3 separate regions of the Homo sapiens genome follow, and regions 1 and 2 are each linked to region 3. The links come from fine-mapping of genetic effects on gene expression. A gene starts in region 3. Each other region holds a variant in brackets. All regions are shown on one strand. Distances are from middle to middle. Region 1 overlaps ATP8A2 (ATPase phospholipid transporting 8A2). Region 2 overlaps ATP8A2 (ATPase phospholipid transporting 8A2). Region 3 holds the start of ATP8A2 (ATPase phospholipid transporting 8A2).

Region 1 (2,756 bases), 510 kb before region 3:
TGACCCTACAATGAGCAACCAGCAATACCATGTAAATAAAGCCTATGTAGTACTAAGGGCTTGCAGAGTGGAAGCCACCTCATGTTTTTCTCACCATTTCCCACTCTCCTGGCAGTAATCTCTGGCGCTCCCTCTGGAGAAGGCCCTGAGTCTCAGCTGTTTTCCTATACGCTATGGAACAGCTATCAGATGGCACGAAGAGGCTCTGGGCTGCCACTTGGAAGAGATTTCCATGGAGTGGGCCTGGGAGATGCTCTGCCCCACGAAGCCGCGCTCTCAGAGGCTTCCCCTCGTGCTGTCGGCATCCAGCGCACATGGAGCGGGTGAAACCACGTGAGCGAGATTATAGCTGCCTTCCAGCCCCTAGCCTGGAATTAGTGACCTGTTTACAAGATGCATACCACACTTGCAGATGCGACAAAAATAGGGAGGGCAGCATTTGCCAGGCATTGTCCATAAAGCAGAGGCACACCTCCCTTCTAATTACAAAACACAAAACTCACACAGTCAAACCCAGCCAGGGCAAGTGCCACCGTTTCCACACTGAGACTCTTTCAGAACAAGAGTTAAGTTAGCTTTATGACCTCATCCCAGCAACAAATACGCTATTCCACCATCACCACCCCGACATTCCAACTTTTCTTTTGGGAGGGACAGGTGTCCTATTAAGTAATTTGGAAAGCTTAATGTCAGTATTCATTAGTTACAGATACATAAATATATATACTTTATCCAAGACGTGATATAACATTGCTTGTCAATTTCAGAACTAACTACTGTAATATTCTTGGAGGAAAAGCTTCTTTCAAACAAAATGCAGCTTGAATACAGTGGAGCATCAGCAGAAGTACAACATCTGCCTCTTGAAGAGCACTCTCAGTTATTTTCCCACATTCTCTTCAGTGAGGGTGTATTCTCACCCCCACCGAAATTCTCTCTAGAATTTCAAACCTGCAATTCCCTTTGCTTTTCTTTGAAAAATCCCTTCCTTCACTAGGGATCCTGGTTATTAACGGTTAATAGTGGATTACCCAGGGCAAGAGAGAATCGTGTGAGTCTAGATAAATAAACACATTATTAAGGAGTAATGCATGAAAACAAGCCATGTGGCTGTGTCAAAGAGGAGAAATGCCCTGGCTCCACAAATACCCTGCTCTGATTGAATTCCCCTCATATCAGTTTCTGATTGTTTAATTCTAAGAGAAACAAGACCATAGAATAAATAGGAAGAAAATAGCATAATGAAAAACAGCAGGACACTGCAATTTCTCTGGTTCGGGACTGATGTGCTGAGACTGCTGCAGTCGCCAACCCCGGGGGCTCTGCAGATGAGCTGGGCAGGACAGGCACTATTACCCCAGCAGGCTCCAGCCCTCCTCCCCAGCCTTTACGATGGCCTCTGTGAGAAGCATGCCAGCCACCCCAAAAGAAGGAGAGAGGGCCAGGGTCAGGAAAAGAGACATTAGAGAAAAGAAGCAAGCGGGCTTGGTGCGGTGGCTCATGCCTGTAATCCCAGCACTTTGGGAGGCCGAGGCAGATGGATCACCTGAGGTCAGGAGTTCGAGA[C/T]CAGCCTGGCCAACATGGTGAAACGCCATCTCTACTAATGATACAAAAATTAGCCAGGCATGCTGGTGGGCACCTGTAGTCCCAGCTACTTGGGGTACTGAGGCAAGAGAATTGCTTGAACCCAGGAGGCGGAGGTTGCAGTGAGCTAAGATCGCACCACTGCACTCCAGCCTGGGTGACAAGAGCAAGACTCCACCTCAAAAAAAAAAAAAAAAAAAAAAAAGCAAGCGGAGAAAGGAGACTGACTCTCAGGCTGGAGAGAGGAAGCGAGCCCTGGGCAGACCAGGACATGGAGGCCAGCTCAGGATAGTGGGCCCTGCCACAAAGTAACAGGAAGGCCATGCAGGCAAGGGCACAGCATCAAGCCCCTTACATCTCTGTAGAGAGTTCCTGTGTTCCCTGCAGAGTCAACAGTCGGCAGAGGCCAGGAGAGGGGACAAGAGTGGACTCGTCAGAGGTGATGCAGAAGGGCCCCAGGGATCTGGGATGGCTCGTGGGAGGAGGGCAAGTGCCTGAGTGGGGCAGGAGAAGCCGCAGGGGCAATGAAATCAAACTCTGTTCACCCAGGTGCTCTCATGTTTGGGCCCCATTCTCACGAATTTTACTTTTCAAAGCATGCTTAGGAGAGTCTCAGGCCAAGGTTAGAGTAACAGTTGAAGAGCTCAGAGCAGCGGGGACTGCCTGCATCTGACAGAGGATCAGGAGGGAGAAAGCTCATCACTGTCCCAGACCAGGCGATCACAACATCCTCTATCTTCCCAAGGAAGCTGCTGGGAAGTGCCAGCCAAAGCACTTCTGATTTTGGAGTGATCTCTTGCCTCCTTCTGCAGCCTGCCTTCTAAGAGCCTGCTAATGAGCAAAGGAAGCTAGAAGGCACCCGCGAGAAGTGGGAGCAGAAGCGGGGGATCTGCTTTATCCACAAACAAATTGGCCCTTGAATACTTGGGAGTGGGGCGTGTGGGTGGTGAGTGGCAGGGAATGAGGTCCCGACATGATTTCCTTCCTCCAACACTGTGCAGCCATCATCCCCAATCCCCAAGGACTGACATAAACTTGTTGAATCCTTCCCAAAGCTGCTGTGATGGAGAAGGGAACAGAGACCCATGTAACTCCAACTTGTCCTGGTTTGCTAAGGGCCACTGACCCTCCCAAAGGTGGAGGTTCAGGAGGCAGGAGTGAAAGGCCCCACT
Region 2 (2,756 bases), 650 kb before region 3:
TGCTTTTTTTTGGCAGCGTGCGGGTGAGTGCGACATCTGGCCTCCTTAGCCTTGGATAGGTGGAGGCTTGAGATGAAGAAACCTGTGGCCATAGAGGGGCCGTGGCGGCCGTGTGCAGGCTAACTGGGGTCCCATGGTTCTAGCTGCTGATGCTGGGAAGGGAAAGCCTCTGAGGGTAGGTTTCCTATTTCTAGGGGGCTGCGGCTGAGCTCAGTGTGGGAATCACACACAGTGGGTCACTGGTCCCCGACTCCACTTTCCCACTGCCAATTAAGAAAAAACACTCCTGTCTGCCTGATGCTGTAGGGCAGCCAGCTAATTTATGAAGCTGTAAACATGCCAGGGAAACACACACACAACACTAATAGTGCAAGCTGGCAAAATGCACGTGATACCTGGAGCCTTCCTGTTTATTTATTTGAGACAGAGTCTTGCTCTGCCGCCTAGGCTGGAGTGCAGTGGCGCGATCCCAGCTCACTGCAACTTCTGCCTCCAGGGTTCAAGCAATTCTCCTGCTTCAGCCTCTTGAGTAGCTAGGGCTACAGGCATGCACCACCACGCCCAGCTATTTTTTTTTGTATTTTTAGTAGAGACGGGGTTTCACCATGTTGGCCAGGCTGGTCTCAAACTCCTGACCTCAAGCAATCTGTCCACCTTGGCCTCCCAAAGTGCTGGGATTACAGGCCTGAGCCACCACACCCAGCCCTGTTTTTAAATCAGACTGATCTGGACTGGTAATAAGTAATCAAAGTAGGGTTGTTTCCATGTAAAGAAAAAGGTTACACAATAAACTCAAAAGGAATTTAGTGATTGATTGGACCTGTGGCCATACAAAGACTATTCTTACACAATCAGTTCATATACTATTAATAAAATAAATAATAGCCAAGACTCATTAAATGCCATGTGTCTAAGACACTGTGCTATAAAATAAAGCTCATTTAATCCTCCCAGAAACCCTATGAGATAGGGGATTATACTCCTCCCACTTCACAGATGAGAAAACTGAGGCACAGAGATTTTTGTGACCTGCCCAAGGTCACAGACCTCGTGAGTGGCAGAG[C/T]TGGGAAGCAAACCCAGGGTCCACACTCTAGAGCTGAGAACCAGCTTTAGTGTTCACAAGCCCAGAGTGGGGCTTTTCTTCCAACTGGCCCTTCCCACAGAAAGACATTTATAAGGCCTGCTCTCCATTGGCTAACCCTTCTGTGTCAGGGGTCTGGAAAAGTCCCACAGCTCAATTAGACATTCTGGCCAAAAGACAACACAATAAAAAAACCTGACAATCTTGAATTCCATCCATGCATGCGTACAACTTATCAGGGGAGCTGTGAGTTCACTGTCATACTCTTTAAAAGGAGAAAAGAAGTCGAAAAGGGTGCCCATGAATCAGTTCCTGGACTGCCTGTTAATTTCCTGAGGCATCTGGCTTAAAAAGGAAATTTCTAGAGTATCAAGACATACAGTAACAAGACAGAAGAGTCCTCGTGGGATGGAGAAGAGGAGGAGACTTTAAAAGAAGACACTCAGGCTGTTTTCTTACTCTGTGTGTTCCCATAACTGAGAGTCCCGGTCCTGGGCTGGCTTCCTGGCTCTTCCAGAGAGCATGCCTTCTGGCCACTGCCTGAGAATCCCAAAGGCTCAGGGGGGTTATCGGGGGAGGCAAGGGCTTGTCTGCAGAGGTGGCCTGAGAGTTGACTGAGGACATGGGCTGAGCAGCAGGGAGGAGGGCCCAGACCAGTGAGGCCACAGGAGGAAGAGACAGTGGGCGGGAGAGAAGGTGATACAAGCTGAGCCAGGGTGAACAGAACAGAAGAGAACAGAACAGAGAGGAATCTTCCACAGGGGGCTTTTGTCTACTTGCTCACCTCCATTTCTAGCAAAACAAAACCTACAAACCAAAAATTCCCACCACATGGTAGCCACAGTGAAGCAGCTCCCAGACCATTGTGAGCCCTCAGACAGCTGGGTACAGGAGCAGGTGGGTGTCTGAGCCTGAAGGCAGCATCAGCCTGGAGGGGAGCTCCCTTGGGGGCGGATATGCTTGTGCCAGCCTTGGGCCCACACCTAGTGCACTTGAACTTCCTGACCAGGTAGGTGGCTGTGCTTTGATTCTCAGGGCTTTAGAGTTTTCACATGATCTGCTTTCAAGCACCGAAGAGCAAATGCCACCACTCCTGTTCTCCTAAGAGCTTTTGGATTTTCACCAAGTTGCTTAATCAGAGATTAGCAGCAGGGACAAGGAAACCTCCGTTGCCCAGCTTTGGAGGAGCTGCCCCAGCCTCCTGCCTCCCTCTGGCACCGTGTGGCACACACACTCTCATCCCCAATCCTGTACAAGCTGCCCTTTATGAAGCATTTTTACTGCAGTCCAAGAGGAGACGTCTTTCCTTGGGATGTTTCAAAGCAAAATCTAGCAAATAACACTGCTTCGTCTGCTCCAGTAACAAGGCTATGTACTGTGGTCAACTTGGACAATTTCCATTCTCCAGTTCTTTAACAAGGAACGTTTCTAGTCCACATCTGAAGTCATCCTGAGGGGGCCTGGCAGAACAGCAGCTGCAATGGCAGGGTCGTCACTGGCTCCACAGCTGCTGCACCACTCCCGGGGCTGCTCCTCAGTCCTACAGAAGTGGTTCTGAGTAAAGAACAGTCACCCCAAAGAATGGGACATACTCTTTTATAAACTCTTCCGGTGGGAAGCTGAGGACTACTGAGCTCTCCACCCTGAAGATGTCTTTCTCCACTCGCTTGTTTTC
Region 3 (2,756 bases):
TTTACCCAAGTTTAACAAACATTGGCTTAAATTACCTGATAAGCTTGCTTCCCTCTCACGTTACTCAACTACAGAAATACAAAAGTCGCTTATTTTTATGTGCCTATTTTCTCAAAACAAATAAAAAAGCACGAAGACAAGTGACCCCAGCTCCAAACTGTACACCCTCTACCTTCCTCATGTCAAAGATCTACCTGCAAACTTGCCGCAGTCCTGAAACGGTAAGAAATCATTTTTGGGGCTCCTCTTTACGTCTGCATTAACTAATGGTCTAGGTAACCCTATCAAGTGTCATAGCCACATAACATCCAGCTCCACGACATCATAGTTTCTAAATGTGTTCTATAATCATAGAACGCGGGCCTCTAACAGTGTGAGTGGTCGGGTATGGTACATGCGTGTTTGGCTTTAGGTTTCGAGTTCCAACACCCAGGCGCCTGCAGGCAGGGTATGTGTACGCGTGCGTGTGTACGTGTGTGTGTACCTGTGTGTGTGTGTGCGCGCGCGTGTGCGTGTGTGTGTTCGTCTCCAGATGGTTGTATGCACGGATGGTTATGAGCCAGTACGTCGCCGCTGTGAGCGCGCGAGGACCCGGGGCTCCAAGTGGTGAGAATCACTCGAGGGACCCTTCGGATGCCTTTTTCCCCCTCTGCTTTTGAGCTCTGCAGCACAGCGGTGCCGGCCGCCGGCAGGGAAGGCTGCATCTTCTCTGCGCCGCCAAACCGTGCCCACCATCGCGGTGACTGCCGCCTAGGTCGCATCCCTGAGCCGCATCCGCGCGTAGGGGCGCACGGGCACGCGCACAGGGAGGCCGCACACACACACACACATCTGTACAGGGACGAGCCGGGGGTCTCTGACGCCCGCCGCTCACCTCGCCCCGGCCTGGAGCCTTTTGGCCCCGCAGGTGCAGCGACGCCCAGCCCCCGTGCGGCCAGCGCGCCGCGTCGGCGGATCCTGCAGCCCAGAGAGCCCAGGGAGCCCAGGGAGGGGAGCGGGGCGCGGGCGGGGCAGTGTCGCATAACCGCAGGCGCGCCCCGCGCCGCCCCCGCCCCGGGCCCACCCTCCCTCGCCGCGCCCCTCCCAGCTCACCCACGGACGAGCGGATCCTCGACCTCCGCGGCAGGGACATCTTAAGAGCTTTGTCCAGGCCTGCGCCGTTCAGCATCTCGCCCGTGTCGGGGGCTCGGCGGCCCCGGGCGAGAGACGGAGGCTACGCGCAGGGCTGGGCGCAGGGGCCGCCGCCCGAGGACCATGGGTGGGCCAGCGCCTCGCCGGGCTGCTAGCTGGCGGGGACCGCCGGCGCCTGTGCCGGGCCGCGCCCGAGGCTGCGCCGTCCGTGCCGCAGCGGCCAATGCGGCAGCATCCGCGAACGCCACCGCGGCGGGCCCCGCTGGCCCGGGCTGCGGCGTGGGGGCGGGGGACCGGCCCTGAGCGGAGCCCCGCGGGAGGAGGAGCGGACGGGAGGCTGGGAGGGATCCGCAATATTACGCAGGACCGGGGCTTTTAGGTGTCGGGGAAGGCGATGGGGAGGGCTTGGTGGGGTGGGAGATTGGGCCTGTACTTTCGGGGGCTCTTCCAGGAGAGGGGTGCACCTGGGGGACTCGGAGTCTCTGCCTGTCTGCTACCTATTTACCTGCCTGTCACTTGTCCTGTGCAAGTGGAGGCGCTGTGATTCCCCAGGACTCATCCAGTCCCTTTCTTTTCGCAGTTTCTGTTCTTCCGTGCCCAGCCTGGTGGGATCTGTGTAGGGACTTCGTGGAAGGGTTATTTCCAAGGTGTCTGATGTGTGGCTTGGCACTCAGAGAAGTCGGGGGTCTCCAGCCCCCCACTCTCCACAACCTGCCTGACATTCTAACTACGCATATTAAAGCTGCAGGTAGCCCTAGGGAACCTTAACAGCAACCTTCTCAACCCCCGCACGCACACACACACACACACACACCCATCGACACACACACACACACACACAGACCCATCGACACACACACACACACACCCATCGACACACACACACACACACCTTCTTTCATAAAACAAAACCATCGAGAGGTAAGATGACTTGTCCAAGGTCACTTGATCTATTTTTTGTTTTTTCTTATCGCGTAATGTTTAGACTGTGCTTGGTCTTTCTGGGCACAATCCCATGAAGATAAGAAGCTATCTTTATTGTGCCTGATGACATTCTGACCTCGGAGTAAAAACGGAACAAAACAAAAATAAAACTGTTCAGGTGAAAGTCTGACCTTGCTTTTACTGATGCGAGCATTACATTTCTTTTAACCTAAATTAACATTAGGGACTGACAAGGAGTAGTACAGAGTTCAGCAAAAAGAATCTGTGCTAGCAAAGACAGCAGTGCGGCCTGAGCTCCTCCTGCCTGGCCTCTGCATCTGATTTTATTTTCTTTTACTTTTTTTTTTTCTTTGACAGAGTTTTGCTCTTGTTGCCCAGGCTGGAGTGCAATGGCGCTATCTCGGCCCACTGCAACCTCCGTCGCCCGGGTTCAAGTGATTCTTGTGTCTCAGCCTCCCGAGTAGCTGGGATTACAGGCGCCCACCACCACGCCCAGCTAATTTTTGTATTTTTAGTAGAGACGGGGTTTCACTAAGTTGGCCAAGCTGGTCTCGAACTCCTGACCTCAGGCGATCCACCTGCCTCGGCCTCCCAAAGTGCTGGGATTACAAGCGTGAGCCACCACCCCCGGCCTCTGCTTCTAATTTTCTTAAGAACAAACATCCAGGCCGCGCGTGGTG

Evidence for each region.
Region 1: its variant is fine-mapped to the expression of ATP8A2 in whole blood (TOPMed, PIP 0.93).
Region 2: its variant is fine-mapped to the expression of ATP8A2 in whole blood (TOPMed, PIP above 0.99).

Annotation. Positions count from the first base shown.
Region 1 is chr13:25,884,139-25,886,894 of GRCh38, reverse strand. The region is part of intron 33 of ATP8A2 (ATPase phospholipid transporting 8A2); the gene reads right to left. Among named protein-coding and RNA genes, the nearest start is that of SHISA2, 170 kb to the left of the region's middle. The variant C/T (reference allele first, on the strand shown) is at 1,567.
Region 2 is chr13:26,017,061-26,019,816 of GRCh38, reverse strand. The region is part of intron 36 of ATP8A2 (ATPase phospholipid transporting 8A2); the gene reads right to left. Among named protein-coding and RNA genes, the nearest start is that of SHISA2, 34 kb to the left of the region's middle. The variant C/T (reference allele first, on the strand shown) is at 1,064.
Region 3 is chr13:25,370,625-25,373,380 of GRCh38, reverse strand. ATP8A2 (ATPase phospholipid transporting 8A2) reads right to left here and starts at 1,407. Exons shown (of 37, transcript NM_016529.6): 1 at 1,093-1,407. The coding sequence starts at 1,168.